Regions from separate parts of the Homo sapiens genome. Here region 2 is linked to region 1. The links come from fine-mapping of genetic effects on gene expression. A gene starts in region 1. The other region holds a variant in brackets. All regions are shown on one strand. Distances are between the middles of the regions.

What was found. PIP is the estimated chance that this variant, and not a neighbour inherited with it, causes the effect.
Region 2: its variant is fine-mapped to the expression of CCDC91 in whole blood (INTERVAL, PIP 0.96).

The regions. Positions count from the first base shown.
Region 1 is chr12:28,185,685-28,195,728 of GRCh38, reverse strand. CCDC91 (coiled-coil domain containing 91) reads right to left here and starts at 5,273. Exons shown (of 13, transcript NM_018318.5): 1 at 5,088-5,273. It overlaps LOC729291 (a long non-coding RNA gene), which reads left to right and starts at 4,991. Exons shown (of 1, transcript NR_148936.1): 1 at 4,991-10,044. RefSeq lists silencers at 3,819-4,113, 4,797-5,226, 5,257-5,306.
Region 2 is chr12:28,234,986-28,245,029 of GRCh38, reverse strand. All of the region lies in intron 1 of CCDC91 (coiled-coil domain containing 91), which reads right to left. Among named protein-coding and RNA genes, the nearest start is that of CCDC91, 50 kb to the right of the region's middle. The variant C/T (reference allele first, on the strand shown) is at 5,796.

The DNA.
Region 1 (10,044 bases):
AATTCCACAATGCTTTTATATAGAAATAAAGAGATTCTAAAATGTACATGGAAAGAAAAAGAACTCGAATACTCAAAAATTTTTGGCAAACAACAACAAAGTTGGAGGACTCAGGCTTTTTGACTTCAAGATACACTATAACGCTACCATAATAAGGACTGAGGTTTTAGCCAAACAGACGCACAGAACAATGGAACAAAATAGAGTCCACAAAGCAAACCACACAAACATACTCAACTGATTTTTAACAAGGCAAGCCAAAGAAATTTAATGAAGAAAAGATAGTAATGAGAGGTGAAGCCGGCTGGACTTCCGGGTCAGGTGGGGACTTGGAGAACTTTTCTATCTAGCTAAAGGATTGTAAATGCACCAATCAGAGTCTGTGTCTAGCTAACAGTTTGTAAACGCACCAATCAGCACTCTGTGTCTAGCTAATCGGGTAGGGGACTTGGAGAACTTTTCTGTGTAGCTAAAGGATTGTAAATGCACCAATCAGCGCTCTGTGTCTAGCTAAAGGTTTGTAAATGCACCAATCAACACTCTGGCAAAACGGACCAATCAGCACTCTGTAAAACGGACCAATCAGCACTCTGTAAAATGGACCAATCAGCTCTCTGTAAATGGACCAATCTGCAGGATGTGAGTGGGGCCAAATAAGGGAATAAAAGCAGGCCACCCGAGCCAGCAGCAGCAACCCCTTCGGGTCCCCTTCCATGCTGTGGAAGCTTTGTTCTTTCACTGTTCGCAATAAATCTTGCTGCTGCTCACTCTTTGGGTCCGCACTATCTTTATGAGCTGTAACACTCACAGTGAAGGTATGCAGCTTCACTCCTGAAGCCAGCGAGACCACGAACCCACCAGGAAGAACGAACAACTCCGGACACGCCACCTTTACGAGCTATAACAATGAGCTGCAACACCCACCACAAAGGTCTACAGCTTCACTCCTGAGGCCAGCGAGACCACAAACCCACTGGGAGGAACAAACAACTCAGGACACGCCACCTCTATGAGCTGTAACACTCACCGCAAAGGTCTGCAGCTTCACTCCTGAAGCCAGCAAGGCCACAAACCCACCAGGAGGAATGAACAATTTCGGATGCAGCTTCACTCCTGAAGCCAGCAAGGCCACAAACCCACCAGGAGGAATGAACAATTTCGGATGCGCCACCTTTAAGAGCTGTATCACTCACTGCAAAGGTCTGTGGCTTTGCTCCTGAAGTCGGCAAGACCATGGACCCACCAGAAGGAAGAAACTCCAGACACATCTGAACTTCTGGAGGAACAAACTCCGGACACACCATCTTCAAGAACTGTAACACTCACTGCGAGGGTCCGTGCCTTCATTCTTGAGGTCAGCAAGACCAAGAACCCACTGGAAGGAACCAATTCTGGACACAGTAAGAATAGTCTTTTTCAAGAGATGGTGCTGCAAGACTGGGGCATCCATACACACACACACAGAGAGAGAAAGAGAGAGAGAGAGTCTTGACCCCTACCTCACACTATATGCAAAAATTAACTCGAAATTGGTCACAGACCTAAATCTAAAATTTAAAGCTATAAAAGTTCTGGAAGAAAACATAAGAAAAAAAATCTTTGCAACGTTGGATTAGGCAAAATTTCTCATGATAAAAAAGCACAAATCATAAGAGAAAAAACTGATAAACTGGACTTCACCAAAATTTAAAACTTCTGCTCTTTGAAAGATACTGTTAAGAAAATGAAAGGACAAACTACAGACTCAGACTCGAAGGAAATGCTGTGAACATATATACGATAATGAATTTGTATCCAGACTGTATAAAACACTTGCAAACCAATAACAAACAACCCTATTAAAAACGAACAAACGATTTCAGCAGACACTTAATCAAAGAAGATACACAGATGGCAAATAATAGCACAGGAAAAGACGCTCAATATGTTAGAAGAAAAATTCAAATTAAAACATAAATGGGTTTTCACTAAACGCATATTAGAATAGCTAACATTAAAAATAAAATGACAAGTGCTGACCAGAATGTGGAGCAACTGGAACATCAAACATCACTTGCGGGAATGCAAAATGAAACAGCTACCTTGGAAAACAGTTTGGTAATTTCCTTCTTTTTTTTTTTTTTGTTTTTGAGACGGAGTTTCACTCTGTCACCAGTCTGGAGTGCAGTGGCACGATCTTAGCTCACTGTAACCTCCGACTCCCTGGTTCAAGCAGTTCTCCTGCCTCAGCCTCCTGAGTAGCTGGGATTACAGGCACCCGCAACCACGCCCAGCTAATTTTTGTATTTTTAGTAGAGACGGAGTTTCACCATGTTGACCAGGATGGTCTCAATCTCCTGACCTCGTGAGCTGCCCACCTCGGCCTCCCAAAGTGCTGGGATTACAAGTCTGAGCCACTGCGCCCAGCTGGTAATTTCTTTTAAGGTTAAACATGCACTTGCACACGGCCCAAGAATTCCATTCCTAGATGTGTAACCAAAAGAAATGAAAACATATGTCTACACAAAGACTTGCACCTTAATGTACAAAGAACAGCACATGAATGTTTACAGTACCTTCATTCCTAAATGCCAAAAATTGTTCATCAAATGGCGAATAAACATACTATGATATATTCACACAATGAAATACTACTCAGCTGTAAAAAACAACCAAGCATCAACAAACATGCATCAACATGGATGAATCAAAGCATTAAGTGAAAGAAACCTGAAACATAAGGCTACATACTGTATGATTCCATTTACATAACATACCAGAAAAGACAAAGCTATAGACAGGGACAGAGAACAGATCAGTGGTTGCTAGGACCTATGAGTGAGGGGAGGAAACTTTAGAATGATGGGAATATTATTTGTCTGGATTGTGGCAGTGGTTCCATTATATGCATTTGTCAGACTTTATACAGCAATATAATAAAAATTACTTTTTTACTTATAAATCATACCTCAATAAAACTTGATTTTTTTTAAAAAAAGCAACATATGCCCTTTTTAAAAATATGCATCAGTTTAAATGAGCTAAACCAAACTTACTGGGTATGGGAATAGGGCAGGGAGGAACAGTAAGGAGACCAAAAATCCTTAAAATACTGGAAATCTAAAATATTAATTTATCGTTAGTAAATAAGAAACAGATATACATAAACACCAAGAGTTAATCCAAAGAGAGATGCCTTTTTCAATTAAGTTCTCATTGTTTGGACAGAAAATAAGAAAATTTGATAAACTTTCAAGGAAGATTAAAAATCACAAGGAACAGGTTGACAAAGGAGTGCTGTAATTATGACCTACAGTTTGGGAACAACTTATCTAAAACATTCCCCTTCCATTTTACTTAATGGAACCAGTCTTATCCACCCATCCACTCTACTCCACTCCCACTCCGTCTTCTACTATCTTCATTCATAACAATCATATGTAATGCATACATCTGACACATATAGATAAGAGTACAACATAAAATGCCTATTACACCAAATTCCTGTTTGTCCATTTAAGCTCCAGACAAGCTCATTTTTAAACGTCTTTTTTCTCTATTTTAATGCCACCCAAAACCAAAGTGATGTCCCTCTGGAATGATTTTCTGCAGTTTCTTTTGTGTGTTATTAAGTACTAAGATGATCAAAATAAACAAAAATGTCTCAGAAGTTTTGAGTGGATCACTCCAATAAGAAGCTACATTTTTCCATTTAATAAAAGTTAAGAGGTAAGTTGTAACTTTCATCACTTTGTTTTCTTTATGTTTATTCCATTGGGCTTATACTGTTGCTAGGAAACCAGTTCATAAGATTTCCCAGCCCACAGAACACCCTCCTAGGCAGCCTGGAGGATACCAAACTTCGTAACCAGGGCAATTCTCTACCACACAGTTTACTGGTTAGCCAACACCATGCAGGTGCACTCTGCCTGGCATGACCCTTACTACATTTACCTAATAGGTACAGACAGTATAACCAATCCCCTCAACGCAATAGAAATTGTAGCAGAGGGCAATCAGGTGATCATTAAGTGTAGAACTCTCCGACAGCAGGGAACACAACAGCGAATTTGTTGTCAGTCCCTGTCACCCCACCCAACTAAATATTGTGGGGGGGGGAAGGGTTGCCTTAAATTGTGAAGTAAAATGTCAGCCCACTCCAATAACTCCACCACGCAACATGCAAACTGCTTCCAAAAACCATCATCCAACTCCCACCCGGATTAATATTTGGAGAGAAAGGTGGCATCAGTATCCGCACAGCTGAGAGGGGAGGGAAGGAAAGAGTCAGAATTCATAAGGGGCCGCTGAGTCACCTAAAATTGTGGCCAAGACTTTACCCTCCAGGAAATCGAGCTCTGCCCCAACTCTCATCAAGGAAGCAAGTGAGAGTAGCAGCAGCAACATCATCCTACCAAAAAAACACCAGCGCAGCTTTTAATAGAGTTCCACTCCTTAAAGTGAAGCCAAAAATAGGTTTCATGTCCAAAGCTTTCCTCCGCAGTAGGCGACACGCGCAGATGGAGAAAATATCTTTATTGTTGGGAAAGGGAGGCGTGCTAACGGGGACGAAGGATACCTCACCACTTGGCAAAGTTACTGGCTCCTGCCTTGACCCTGAAATGCCACTTTTATTGCAACATGTGGCCCAAGAAACTCTAAGGAAATGTGGCTGGCAGACGCTGTAGAGCTTTTACCCCAATGTACTTGGCAAAGTAAAAGGGGATACATAAACCAGGCGCGTTCTGTGTAATCTAAGCAAGAATCAAGGTCTCCGTTCGGTAGGCGCTTCGGTGACACAATAATCACGTGTTCGTGGGCGTAGACTTTCGAAAACACTCGATTCTGGGACGTGCAGATACCGGTACCCACCGGCGAGCGCAGGAACGAGTGGGCACTCCCACCCCCGGGAGCTGGCTCCGTTCCCGCAGGAGGTTGGTCACGCCCCCTGACTCCTGGTCGCTGCGACAGCCAAGGGCGAGGCCGCAGCAGGCGGGCTGCAGGCGGCGGAAGCTCGTCCGCGCTCCTCCCCCGGTGGGGCGCTCTCCGCTCGCCTCGCGCGGCCCCGACCCCAAGACCCAGGCCCCGGAAGGCGAGCGTTCACTTACCTGCTCCCCTCTCTCGCTCTCCGCTGCCGCCGCTGCGCCGCTCACCCACGCTGCCCGGTGAGCCACCCCCAGCACACAGACCCCTACGCGTACACCCGAGGCACGGCCCCAGGCCCTTGAGGGGAGACCGCGGCCCAGCCACACAGGTTGGGGTAGCCCACGCACCACCCGGCTTCGAACACCTCTGCCCCCGGAAGTTGATTTCCGCCAAGGCCCGCCCAACACAGCGCCCGTCACTCAACGTAAACACGCGCGTCACGTGGCCCCAGGCCGAGGCCCGGGTCGGGGCCCCATGTTCAGAGCCCTGCCACCCCAGCTTGAGCGTGGTCTTTGGAGCGTTGCCCTGTGAAAAGGGGTGACTTTGCCATGCTCCTTCCCAGTCTACCTCCTGTTAGTTACAGTTTCTCATTCCTCTTGAGTAGCAGGCCCTGTTTCTCCACCTAATCCCTGCAAGTAAACCGTCCCCCAAATCAAAATGAGTTCCATCTGGAACTTTGTAGGATTGGTCCTAAGAAGATCCCGCCGAATCTCTTCACCACTTCCTAGCAGAGCACAGTAAAACCGGGGACTAAGCAAAGTGGCTGACATGTAGTAAGTGCTCAAGAAATGGATGTTGACTAGATGCTACCTCTCATCTTTGCCTGTCTGAACTCTCAAGCACCGGATGCAAGTAGACTGAGAGCCTCCGCCAACCAGTAAGATGACTTTGGTCAAAGAATTCTGCTCTAGAGTTACTTTTGTTCTTGTCTTCAACTCCAGATCACAGCAATTCATACGTGCCATCTCTGTTGCAGAGTTTTCTTGCAAAGCCTTTCTTAAAAGCTTTCTGTCAAATAGCTTGTCCTGAAGCAATAGGAAAAGAATAGCGTAATTCACAGATTATTTATTTGAAAGGAAGGAATGATTATATAGATGTCTTTGTCCATTTCAGACTGTCAATAGCGATGAGAGAAACAGTCAACTAGCAGTCCACTCGTGAATGTTTCTTCTGTTTTTGCCATGGAAGGATTTTGAAGAACATTCATTCAACAAATTTTTATTGATTGTATACCACATACCTAGTCCTGGGCCAAGTTTTGACAATTCAAGAGTGAGCAAGGTAACACTCAAGATATTTGTCTTCAAGAAGCTTACAGTCTAGTGAGAAAGAAAGACACTAACCTGGGGACTTTGAGCATAAATCTCTGGAATATTCACATTCCTTGTATAACAAGTATTCTTTCATCCTTGGACACTGGGTTTCTCATCTGTTGAACAAAATTGGCTTAAACCTGTAATCTCTGTTCTGTACTGGAAGTGGAAAATATTAGCAAGGCATCCTGACAAGTCTGCCATAAGTGCTGGCCTAAGTAGTTAATGAGCAGTTTCAGTATTGAGCAAGTCACCTTGACTACATTCTTTTTCCAGCCCACCCCCTTCTTTATGCATACAAAAAACATTTCTATTGTAAGAAATGTAATGCTTTCTTACACATATTTTTTTATCTGTCTACTAGACTACCAAGTCAAGGACCACTTCTCACTTGTATATCCAGCAATCTACTCACTTCTCATTTGTCTTTGTGTATCCAGCAGTCTAGCAAAGTGTCTAGTAGTTAGAAAAAAGGTATTCATAAATATTTCTTAAACTTAGTAAGGTTACCTTTATATTATTTTGTCTCTCATATCTCTTTCTGCTGGAAACCAGATTAGTTTCTGGGAGTTCCTTCCCATTGATGTACTTACATGTTCACTCTGTCCCGATATTCAATACTAAACTGTATTCCATACTAAACAGATTTATAATAAGTAACTAATATTTATTATTAATATTTGCTATGTGCCTGGCATTAGATTAAATATTTTAAATCCCATATATAACTTACCACAATAATTTTACAAAGTAGGTATATTAATATATTTACACTTTAGATGAGGTTACAGATTTAGGAAGTGTAAATTGACCAAGTGGATTTAAAGCCAGATCTGCCCAACAGAAGGGCTTGTTTATTCACTATAGCACATCACTTTGCTTTTTATATCACTTATTTATCAGTGAATTCAAATCCTACCAACTCCATGAAATCTTTCTTCCTTCCCCACAGTAATCTTTTTCTTTATAAACAATTCAGTGATTTTAGTATATTCACAGAGTTATGCATGCTTTACCACATTCGATTTTAGAGTATTTTCACAGCCCCAAAAAGAAACCCCATACCCTTTGGCCCCAACTTCTCCCTCCTCTCCCCAGCCCTAGGCAACCAGTAATCCACTTTCCGTCTGTATGCATTTGTCTATCTTGAACATTTCATATAAATGGAATCATGCAATGTGTGGTCTTTTGTGACTGGCTTCTTTCACTTAACATGTTTTCAAAGTCCCTTCATCGGTTGGGTTGTTTCAGCTTTTTGAATATTATGAATAATGCTCCTGTTGACATTCATGTACAAGTTTTCGTGTCAACATATGTTCTCATTTCTCTTGGATATATACCTAAGAGTGGAATTGCGGGGTCATATGGTAACTCTATGTTTAACCCCTTGTGGAACTACCACACTGTTTTCCAAAGTGGCTGTACCATTTTACTTTCTCACCAGCAATGTATGAGGGCTCTAATTTCTCTATTGTGCCTTTTCTTGTCTCTCTAGAACATGTGCCTCTCTTACTTTTCAGAATACTTTTTCCATGAGCCATCTTCAATTATTATTCTTTGTTGTACATGTATCTGCAAGCCCATTTTCCTAATAGTTTGTGACCTTCTGAGATGAAAAACATGGTGCCTGCCCTTAAGAGAATCACATCTAGAAAAATATACAATCAAATCAGATATTACAGTGATAATAAACACTGAAATAAAGGTTATTGCTAAAAGGTGGAGAAAGAACACCTCACTCAGCCTAGGTTAAACAGGAAGTACTTCTCATAGAATGTATCAAAGCTCAGGATTAGTCCTGAAGAATCTATTGGAATTGACCAAGCTAAGGAAAGACATGAGTATGCTCCAGAAAAAGGAACATATACCTTTGTATATATTTCCTTGTCTATGAACTGTGGAGGTAAGTATATTTTGCAGGTAAGCATACCATAGAAGCAAACATTGTGGTATGCAGGTATGCAGCAGGAGAAATGGGAAATGTAGATGTAAGATGATGAAGAGTTTTGTAAACTGTGTTAAGGAGTTTGAACTGTATCCTGAAGGTAATGGGAAATTGCTGAATTAGTTAAGCAAGGTTGGAGAAGAATTACTTCAGCAGCAGTATAGAGGAAGGATTATTGGGTAGGAGAGACGGGGCCAAGACTAGAAAAACAAACAAACCAGATAGAAGACATAAAATAACTAAAATGAGGAATTAATGACTGCCTGAGCCGAGATGGTACCCATGAAATTGGCAGAAAGGATTTTAAAGGCACATGGCCAACAAAAAAGGAGGAAAGAAGCCAGTCACGGTGGCTTATACGTGTAACCCCAGCAATGTGGGAGGCTGAGGTAGGAGGATCACTGGAGCCTGGGAGGTGGAGGCTGCAGTGAGCTGTGATTGTGCCACTGCATTCCAGCTGGATGACAGAGCAAGACCCTTTCAAAAAAAAAAAAAAAAGGAGGAGTAAGAAGAAGAAGAAAGAATTGAAGATATATTCCAGGTTTCTGGCTGTAGTCATCAAGAGGAAGATTGGGCACTTGGTGATAAGAATAATGAAACACTACAATGATGGTATCTTAGTTTGTTCAGGCTGCTATAGAAAAATACTGGGTAGCTTATGAATGCAAATTTATTTCTCACAGGTCTGGAGTCTAAGAAGTTCAAGATTAAGACACCAGCAGATTGGATGTCTAGTGGGGCCCTGCTTTCTGGGTCATAGATTGTGCCTTCTAGCTGTGTCCTCATGTGGTGGAAGAGACAGGGCGGCTCTCTGGAGCCTCTTTTATAAGGGCAGTAATCCTAGTCATGAGGCTTGTGTCCTCATGATTTAATCACCTCCCAAAGGCCCCACCTCCTAACGCTATCTCATTGGTGATTAAGTTTAACATATGAATTGTGGGGGGACAAAAACATTCAGACCACAGCAGATAGGTTGCAGGAATTTAAACTGCCATTGAAGTTTATGTGCTGTTGCAGTCACCCACAGAAATGAGATGAACCCTCACCCAAACTTTGGCTCCTATTTCAAGACTTAGCATACCACATATGCACCAACAGGGTATAAAAAGGTTTATTACTCACATAATGAGCCTTTCTAGGAAGAGTACAGCAGACCTCCTAAGCAGGTTTTAAAATGACTTGAGAGAGTAGGAGAAAAAGCTATTGGGATTTTTTTCATGGCTAGGACATGGCGCTTGGGTGAAAAAGCCCACACAGGGCAGGGACTGTATGGCTCAAATTTTCCACCAGCACCAAAATAGGAAATACCTATTTTGCACCATATTTGGATCTAGGCAAGCTTTCTCATCAAGTTGCCTAGATTCAGATATCATACAAAAGGGAACAGGTGAGGAGCCGGACTTAAAACTTGTTAAGAATCAAACATAAAAAATTATGTCAGACACAATTACATATTCTTAGATCTAGTTTAACTGCAACTAACAATATAGTTGTTACATATATATATGCTTTGAAAGTGATTATCATGGACACTGTAGTTGCAATCCCAACATTTATTCCACTCTTCCCACATTGTGCATAGTACACCTAAGAAATTGAGGTGAAATTAACCTCACCTTTATCTCCAAAGTTAGTCCAGTTAAGATAACCCAATCCCAACCTACGTTGTTCCCCTGGCCACAAGATGTTGTTCAGGGTTGAGCAAATTGGCACCAATTACAGGACTTTAGCCCCAAAATTGTGGGCTGTGGCTCCTTTCTCTCCCTTGATAAATGAGAAAGCATGTGGTTCTTGTTACTGAGGGCAGTCATCTTGTAACCAAGAAAATAAAAAAGCTGGAACCCTGATCAAATAAGCAAAGATTTATAACTTTGTATATAA
Region 2 (10,044 bases), 49 kb before region 1:
AATAAATAGGAATGCACCTATGATAGTATCTATGATACTATTTCAATGTCTTCTTTTATACTTTCTAGTTATTTGTTGTTACTATAATAACAATCCAATTGACTTCTATATTAATCTACCTACTCAACTTTAGTAAACTCTTATTTCTTTTTTTTTTTTGAGACAGAGTTTCCCTCTTGTTGCCCATGCTGGAGTGCAATGGCGCAATCTCAGCTCACTGCAATGTGCTTCTGTCTTTTGCTCTTGTATTGCTTGCTCTTGGAGCCTAGATGCCATTATGTGAGACAGACCAAACTGGCCCACACTGAGATATCACATGGAAAAGCCGTATGTAAGTTTTCCAACTGACTGCCTAATTAAGTTCCCAGCCAACAGCCAGCATCATATCACCAGACATATAAATGAAGATACTTTAAGATGAATCCAGCCCCTAGCCAGCAAGTCACCTCCAGTGTTCAACGTTCACATCATCCCAACTGAGGCACTGAAAAGAGTAGAGCTGTAAAAAAAAAAAAAAAAAAAAAAAAAAAAAAAAGCCTTCTTCTACATTGTCCAAGTTTCTGACCCTCAGAATTCATAAGCATAATAAAACAGCTGTTTTGTGCCATTAAATTTGGATTTGTTATACAGCAATAATAATCAGAACATGTGATAAGCATGCTTTTATCATTTCTGACTTTAAGAGAATCTTTTCATCTATCCCCATTTAGGAAGATTGCTGATGATGGTTGGTTGACTGGTTGTTTTTTAAATATTTCTTGACAGTTTAGAGATGTTCCCTCTTTTCTTAATTTGCTAAGCATTCTTATCATGAATTTATGCTGATTATCAAATGATTTTCTGTATCTATTTTAATTATACAGTTTTTCACTTTTAATCTATCAATGTAAATGTTGCTTACATTTATGGATCATTTATTAGTAAATCATCCTTGCATACCTGGGAAAAATCCAATTTGGCAATGATGTTTGTCTTCTTTAAATGTTGGTTTCAATTTGCTACTGTCCTGTTTGGGATTACCAGCTCTATATTAAAAGTGAAATACATCTGTAATTGTCATCTGTTTTGGTGTCTTCATTTGATTTGGATGTCAGGATTATGCTGGGCTTTCAGAACTTGCTGGGGAATTATCCTCTGTTTGTATTAATTTTAAAAGATTGCAACAGATTGGAATAATCTATTCCTCAAAATTTTGGTAGAGACTTATTTATTGGCAAATCACTTGGGCTTGTTGCTTTCTTTGTGGGAAGATTCAGACTTTTAATTTCTCCCTCGGTTTTTACAAGTAATATTTTCCTAGAAATGTCTATTTTTACATAGGTCACATATAATTAACAGTATTCTCATTTTCCTTTTAATCTCTGATTTATGTTATATATCTCTTTTTCATTCTTTATATATTGAATTCTGTATATGTCCATGAACTGTATTCTTCATATATTGTATACCCTTTGCTGACTTTTTTATCTACCAATAACCACAAATGTTAATTTAAAATTTCCCACTTTAATAGGAGAGGTACTAATTTACGTATACCAATCTATCAAATTTTGCTACCTGTTTGATGTTATATATTTTTGGTGAATGTAGTGAATTCTAATAATTTTATGTTGCCTTGGCATACATTTTAAACATGTTTAACTTTCTCATATCAGAAACTGGGCTTAGTCACACTCGACACAGTTTCCAGTTGTCTGCCTCCACCCAGTTCCTCTATGTTGTTGTTCCAGATATCTACCTTATACGATCGCCTCCCAGTAACCACTTCCCTATGGGACAGCTGGATACAACCTACTTGACTCACCCTACTGACTCCCATACCCTGCACGGACTGCCCAGATAAGCTGCAGTGACCATCTCTCAGTCACAGCGTGACCAAGGAAATGAAGTCTGTTTGCTGTAAACCCACTGTATTAGTCCGTTCTCACATTGCTTTAAAGAAATACCTGAGCCTGAGTAATTTATAAAGAAATGGGGTTTAATTGGCCCACGGTTCTGCAGGTTGTACAGGATTGTACAGGAAACAATGTTGGCATCTGCTTGCCTTCTGGGGAAGCCTCAGGAAACTTTCAATCATGACAGAAGGCAGAGGGGAAGCAGACACCTCTTACATGTCAGAAGTAGGAGCAAGAGGGGGGCAGGCGCTACACACTTTTAAACCAGATCTCAGGATAACTTCACTCCTTATCACAAGAACAGCACCACACAGAGGGGATGGTGCTAAACCATTCGTGAGGAACTGTCCCCATGATCCAAGCACCTCCCACCAGGCCCTACCTCCAGCACTGGGGATTACAATTTGACCTGAGATTTGGGTGAGAACACAGATCCAAACCACGTCACCCACAGTTAGAATTCCCTGCAGGGAAACTCTTTGATAACAACCTAGACCCCAATAATGGCTTTGACTCACAGGTTCCTTGCTCTCTCCCTCTCTTTCTCTCTCTCTCTCTCCCCACCCACTGGTGGAGCCTCCAAGTCCCAGATGGCTTCCCCTTTCCCATCTGGCCCTGAGAAACATGCTGCCCTCTTTTCTGTGGGATCCGTAAGTAATATACTGCTTCTGTTATTTCCTATGTTTGGTTGTGCTGCCTCCTCTGTGTCTCACCTGACCAACACATCTAAATCTAACTCCTTTCCTGGTCAGGGCTCTCCTACAGAATAGCTAACTTGTTAAGAATAAACTGGACACAAGTCAGGCAAGCGCCAAAAGGGCACCTGCCAGTATAAACAAGCTTCTTTGTTTGTAATGAGAAGGACATCTGGGTCACATGTCAAACACTTAGGCTGTCCACAGGGATAAAGAAGTATCCTGTGAAAGGCCCATTATAAGCATCATATGACCAAATCCCCTGGCACCCCCTCAGGGCAGGGCTAGAGTTTACAGCCACTTGAGAGACCTCAAGACAAAATTAGAAGAAAAATATGACAGTATATTTAATATGACAGTATATTATAACAACTTTATATGATAACAAGGTGATCAGTCCTAATATGAGTTTTTTTTGTTTCGTTTTTTTTTTTTTTTTTTTTTGAGAAGGAGTCTCGGTCTGTCGCCCACGCTGGAGTGTAATGGCGCTATATCAGCACACTGCAACCTCCGCCTCCTGGATTCCAGCAATTCTCCTGCCTCAACCTCCCAAGTAGCTGGGATTACAGGTGCCCACCACCACACTCAGCTAATTTTTGTAATTTTAGTAGAGACAGGGTTTTGCCATGTTGGCCAGGCTGATTTTGAACTCCTGACCTCAGGTGATCTGCCTGCCTCAGCCTCCCAAGTGCTGGGATTACAGGTGTGAGCCACCACGCCCCGCAAGAACACAGGTATACTTTGAGAAATTCCTCTTCTAGTAACATGCCCTAGAGAAACTCTCACACACGGATACCAAAAGTCTTGCACAAGAATATTCATGGTAACACTGTTTGCAATAGTAAACCCCACAAACAACCCAAATGCGCATCGAGAACTCTAGAGAAAGATGAGGACAGATTAGATTACCTGAGAGAGTTTTTCTTATGGTACAGGAATGAAGGAAATGATTAGCTACTCATATCCTAGAACTATTCTTCATACAAAGCAAAACTGCAAGCTGCCACTTGGGGGAAAGGCAGAAAACCCTCCCACCCTCTGAAACCAGACAAATACCAGGAGTCAGTAGATAGTACACAAATTCTACACAAACTTTTTCAGGAAAAAAGAACAGGAAATGCTTCTCAATTTACTGAAATTTGTTTTATGACCAAGGATATGGTTTATTCTGGTGAAGGTTCCATGCACATATGAAAAGAAAGCATGTTCTTTTCAATAGACAAAAGATAGAGACATTCACCAAAGAAGATATACAAAGGGGATAGCAACTAAGCAAATAAAAAGATGTTAAACATCACCAATCTTTAGAGAAATGGAAATTAAGGCCACAATGAGACACCACCACATACCTACCAGACTAGCAAAAATAAAAAGTAATGACAATACCAAATGCTGGCAAGGATGTGGAGAAAGTGGCTCTTTCAAACATTTGTGGTTTGAAAGATCCACTTTTTCTGGTGGGAATGTAAAACAGTATGATCACTTGGGAAAACAGTTGTTCAGTTTCTTTAAGAATTAAATATATACCTCCTATAAGGGCAAGCAATTGTACTCCTAGGTATTTATCCCAGGAAAATGAAAACTTATGTCCACACAAAAATCAGTACATGATTGTTCATAGCTTTGTTTGTAATAGCCAAAAACTGGAAACAACCAAAATGTCCTAAAATAGGTGAATGGTTAAACAAACTGTGCCACATCTCTACCACTGTAATACTTATCAGCTATAAAAAGGAAAGAACTACCGATACATGCAAGTTGGAGAGATTTCAAAGGTATTACACTGAGTGAAAAAAAAAAGCCAATCCCAAAAGGTCACATAATGCACGATTCCATTTATATAAAAAAAACTTTAAACGTGTCTCTTTTAAAATGTGTTTTGACTTACTGAGTTTTTCCTTCAATTGCTTTACAAATTTATCACCTATCTGCCTTAGCTTCATAACACATTAGTTTAGTATATTTTAGAAACACAAACCAATGACCTGACAGAAGAATAGGTGTTCCCATTTCAGAGAATAAATATAATTTATCTCAGTTTTTTACAGTGGGTGACAAAAATTGTGAGATAAACAAAAAGGAAAAAAAAGTCAAGAAGTAATCAATAAAACTAGACCAAGAGATAATCTATTCGTTAAAGCATTAAGACAAAAACTTTTTAAAAACTGTGATTAATACAAGAATACAGTGAAAACGGTAGAAAACATGCATAAGAGGGAATCAACAGATAAAAGGAAACTATTAGAAAGCGTAAAATGGACTTAGACCTAGTTTTACTCCTAGTAAGAAATATGGCACATGAAACCAAAGATTTATCTTTAATAACTCATGATGACACTGCAGCTTTCAGAGTAAGTATTGACAGAAATACCAATCTGATTCCAAATTTAAACATTCTGCCAATGCCTATGCAAAATTACAAAATTGTTTTATTATAAAGAAAATATATTCCACAGTTACAAGAGCTGGATATTAAATTTTAGTGTTTCTTCTAAATTTTGCTAATATTTGAGCAACACTGTTCTCCAGATTTGTCAAAACAAGATAAAAACAATTTACTATAATCCCCCCACACTGTTTTCATTTTATCTTATCTCCTTCTAGTACTCAAATAAATACATATATATTTTAATTCTACATGCAATTATAAGTTCTTTTTCATTTATTATATAGTCTATAGTTCTAAGTAACAGCCTTTATCATTGTACCCTTCATAATTGTATTATTTACCTGTGTGTTACATCCCATCAATATGACAACAATTTTTCTGGATGTAAAGTCCAAAAAGAGGAAGTTTCAGCATGAGTTTATGTTGGATACACTTTATTATATTTCCTAGCATATAATATTCCATATTACATAGTTAATAGCACAATGATGACTTCACACATTAACATTTTTCTTCTTTTAATTTAATACCTTAATATGAACTCCCAGATATAGAATGATTAGCTCAAAGAGTATGAACACTGCTTGACAGGGTTTACTGCATCACTTTCCACAGGAGCTATACTAATTAATGCCATCACATGCAATTTTTAAAAAATCTTTATACATAAACACATAAATGTTAATTTTAACTTTAAAGCATAAATTAGTAGTCATGTTTCCCTACCTCAAATACCCTCTCCAACTTCCCTCCCACAACATGACAGCTCCATCCATTTGCCCATTAAAATGGTCCAAGTTAACCATCTACTATATA[C/T]CTCTATTCTCATACATATAAAAATATGTATTCTCATATATATGTCTACATATATAATGGTGTTATCACTACATTTTTTAATTTAAGATGCCACATATATTTTTTTTTTTTTTCCGAGACAGAGTCTCGCTCTGTCACCCAGGCTGGAGTGCAATGGTGTGATCTCAGCTCACTGCAACCTCCGCCTCCTGGGTTCAAGCAATTCTCCCACCCCAGCCTTCCCGAGTAGCTGGGATTACAGATACCCACCATCATGCCCAGCTAATCTTTGTACTTTTGTAGAGATGGGGTTTCACCATTTTGGCCAGGATGATCTCGAACTTCTGACCTCAGGTGATCTGCCCATCTTGACCTCCCAAAGTGCTGGGATTACAGGCATGAGCCACTGTGCCTGGCTGCCACACACATTTTTAATTATCTTAGTTGTTCTCATGTAATAATTCCCCATGCAAATCCCACCAAGTTTACTGGTGCATATCTGATTCATTCTTTTTAATGACTACTAAGATTCTATTATGTAGATATATTATGTAGATACATAATAAATACATTCACAATTCCCCTACTGATAGACATAAATTGCATTTCCAGTTTTTGCCACTAGAAACAAATGCTCATACAGAAATGCTTATATATGGAAGTGTGTTTCTATGAGCTAGATTTCAAAGAGTAAGACTGCACGGTCAACTGGTATAAATATATTTTTTTAATTTTAATAGATATTATCAGATCACTGTCTACAAAGGCTCTAGTAACTCACATTTCTACCAGCAAAATATAAAAACTAATTCTTTCCTTAGGTTCTTGCCAATACAATGTTATTGCTGGTTCTTTTCTCTCTTTCTCTTTCTTTTCATTAAAGGTGGGGGCTGAAGGAGGCAGTATGATAGATACAAGGTTATATATCACACTAGTAAGTTAGAACATCTTTTAATATGTTGTTGGCCATTTGGACTGGCTTCTTCATATCTTTTGCTCATTTTCATATAGTGCTGTTTGTTTCCTTTTTGTCATTATCTAAGAAGTTATTATATAGAACAGATATCAACTCTGTCCTTTCTCTGCACTGTACATATTTTTACCAATTGTTTGTGTGGTATATCTTTCCATTCATGTGTTAAGTTTCATACAAATATATCTTTCTTTATAGGTTGTAGACTTACAATGGGGGTTAAGATTTTCCTCGCCCCAAGAATGTACATGATGAATGATACAGAAAACAAAAAAGGGATTGATATAGGGAAAAAATTAAGAATTAATTAGTAAAAGAGGGCTCATCTGTGGAGCTGATATTAAAGCTGTGACCCAATGTATAAGGATGTAATAATAGTAAAAAGAGTAGAGAAGTCCACATGTGAATATGTTCAAGTCAAAGGAAGAGAGGAGCCGGTCAATTAAGACGGGGATCCCTTCCTATTCTATGATTAAATATTTCAGTGATTTCAAAAATGTATATTCACACATAATAGTTTCCTGTGGCTGCTGTCACAAATTACCAAAACTTGGTGGCTGAAAACAACAGATATTTATTCTCTCACAATTCTGGAGGCCAGAAGTTCAAACTGGGCTGAAATCAAAGAGTTGGGAAGGCTGGCTCCCTCTGGAGGCTCTAGGGGAGAATCCATGCCCTGCCTGTTCCAGCTTCTGATAGCTGCTGGTATTCCTTGGTTTGTAGCCTCATCACTCTAATGTTCAAGGCTAGTATCTTCAAATCTCTTTCTACTCTATCTTCACACTGTCTTCTCTGCTGTATGTCTGTAGATTATGCCTCTGTTTATCTCTTATGAGGACACTTGTGATAGTATTTAGGACCCGCACAGATAATCTAGAATAATCTCTCCATCTCAAGACCCTTAACTTAACCATATCTTCAAAAACCCTTTTCCACACAAGGTAACACTTACAGGTTCCTAAGACCTAATATCTTTGAAGGACATTATTCTGCCTACAACAACTTTTTTTAAAAAATGTGTGTGTGTGTGTGTGTGTGTGTGTGTGTATGTGTAATACACATGTATGTATGTATTAACATAAATGGATGGGAGAAATTAAACATAACTATTAGTGAGGGATATATTTAGAGTTGCATGAAAATCAAAGAAAATAATTAAATCACTTACAATATAATATGAGATACACAAACAAAATTTTAGTGATCTATTTTCCATTTTCATTAGCATACACTACCTTACTTGTATACACTTCTACCTACAATTTTCTATAAAAGAAGTCTCTAAAAAGAGTCCCTACTATATTCAAATAAAACAGATTAAAGGGGGACATAAAATCATTAGCTTTGTAAGGGAGATAGAGATTTGAACAAATTCTTTACTTGAAATGTACCATTATATTGTTACATAAAATAAAAAAGTATTTTTAAACTATTGAAAAATAATCTCACAAACATCATACTATATACCTTTATTATACATCAAAATATATTTTTTCAACAAACTTTGAAACAAAACATTCCATAATGAAAATAAATTCTAATCTGTTTCCATAAACCCGATTTTCACATTTTACGTGGTCCTAAATTGTGGCTCGCCAGTATTTTACAGCTTTCAAACATAGTCTAGCGACTAAAAAGTGACATATTTCACCAAGTGGCTAATTTGAAGGTAACAATGACTACGCATCACTCTATATAATCTGAGACATATTTTAATATAATTTATAAACTTTTATATTTAGTATTTTGGATGCAGAGGTCTCAAATTTTATTTTATATGAAGAAAAGATATATTACCATAAAAATAACAGATACAAAATACTTTACTCGACTAAAATAATGCAAGCCAAAAAATTAAACAGAAAAAGATTACAATACAGCAATAATATTAAATTTATACATTTAATTTTATGCTGCTATTCAAAACATCTATTTATCAAATAACATAAAATCAAGTAGAAATACTCTTCACAGAAAACTGCCTCTAACTTCTAATACATAATATTTATACAAAATGGGAACAAAGTTAATGACTAGTACCAAACAATCACAAAGAGAAAGGGCATTTTCATACTTGTATTAAAAAAAATTCAACATCATCATTAATTATGTTCATTTGATATCAATTAAATAAAATATAGAGATCAAACTTTGATCTATTCTCAGCATCTAACAAAGCATGACACAAACTCAGTGAATTTTGACTAATCTTAGGAAAAGTTATATTTACTTCCAACAGCAAAGCATAGCAAGGTCTACTGAAATAAATGATTTATACTGACAATTTCAGAAAATTTTCAGTTTCTTCAGCTAGCATTCACTGGTCATGAAAAATTGTGTCACTGACAAAATGTTACTGAGAAAATCTGTCCTTTATGATTACAGATGATATAAGACACTATATTTAACAATCCAAGGTAAAATTTACCTCCTCATACACAAAAATAACACTACGCACAGCTTAAGTACCAAAAAAAAAAATACTTATAAATGTCAAATTCATTTTAAATGCTGCCTTCTCAAACATGATACTCAGACCTAGTCCACTCAACAAAATTATCTCATACTGTAGTCTAAAATGTCTGTTACCAGGAATCCAAATGGGATTTGCAGCATGCCAGAAGATTGTAACTCAAATTCATCTATACACATTACTGAGCTTCATTTTCCTCGTCTTTTTTTTTTTTTAATGCTATGCGGCATTAACTGAAACCTAATGGTGGGAGAACAAGAGTTGGATTAATAAATAGAAACTTTACAGTAGTCCTTATTATAATGAAGTTGTGCCCAGCATTCTATCCTTTGTCAGTTTTACTCTCTCTAGTTGTTTCATACTCATTTATAATTTGAATCAGTTAAATGTAGACCTATGTGTTCCTCCATAGTCTTTAACATTGACATCCACCAGAAATATTCTCAGGATTTTAAAAATAAGAATGCCATTAATTATATACACCATTTAAACCTTTGGCAGATTTTAAAAGGCCACAAATTATTTGGTGTGCCTTCTACAGAGAAGCAGTCTATGTCTCCTCCCCTTGAATGTGGGTGAGCTTTGTGGTATCTTTGACCAGTAGCATGGGTGAGATATGTGCCATTTTCTGGGCCCAGGCCTTAAGAAATAGGCACCTTCCACTTCCTGTCTTATGAATACTTAACTCTGGAGAAAACGACCCTCCATATAAGAAATTTGACTATGCTGAGACTACCATGCTGTAAAGAAGCCCAAACTAGCCATGTGGAGAGAGCACATGAAGACAGAAAACACCTAATCAAACTTGCACTCTGCCAGTTATG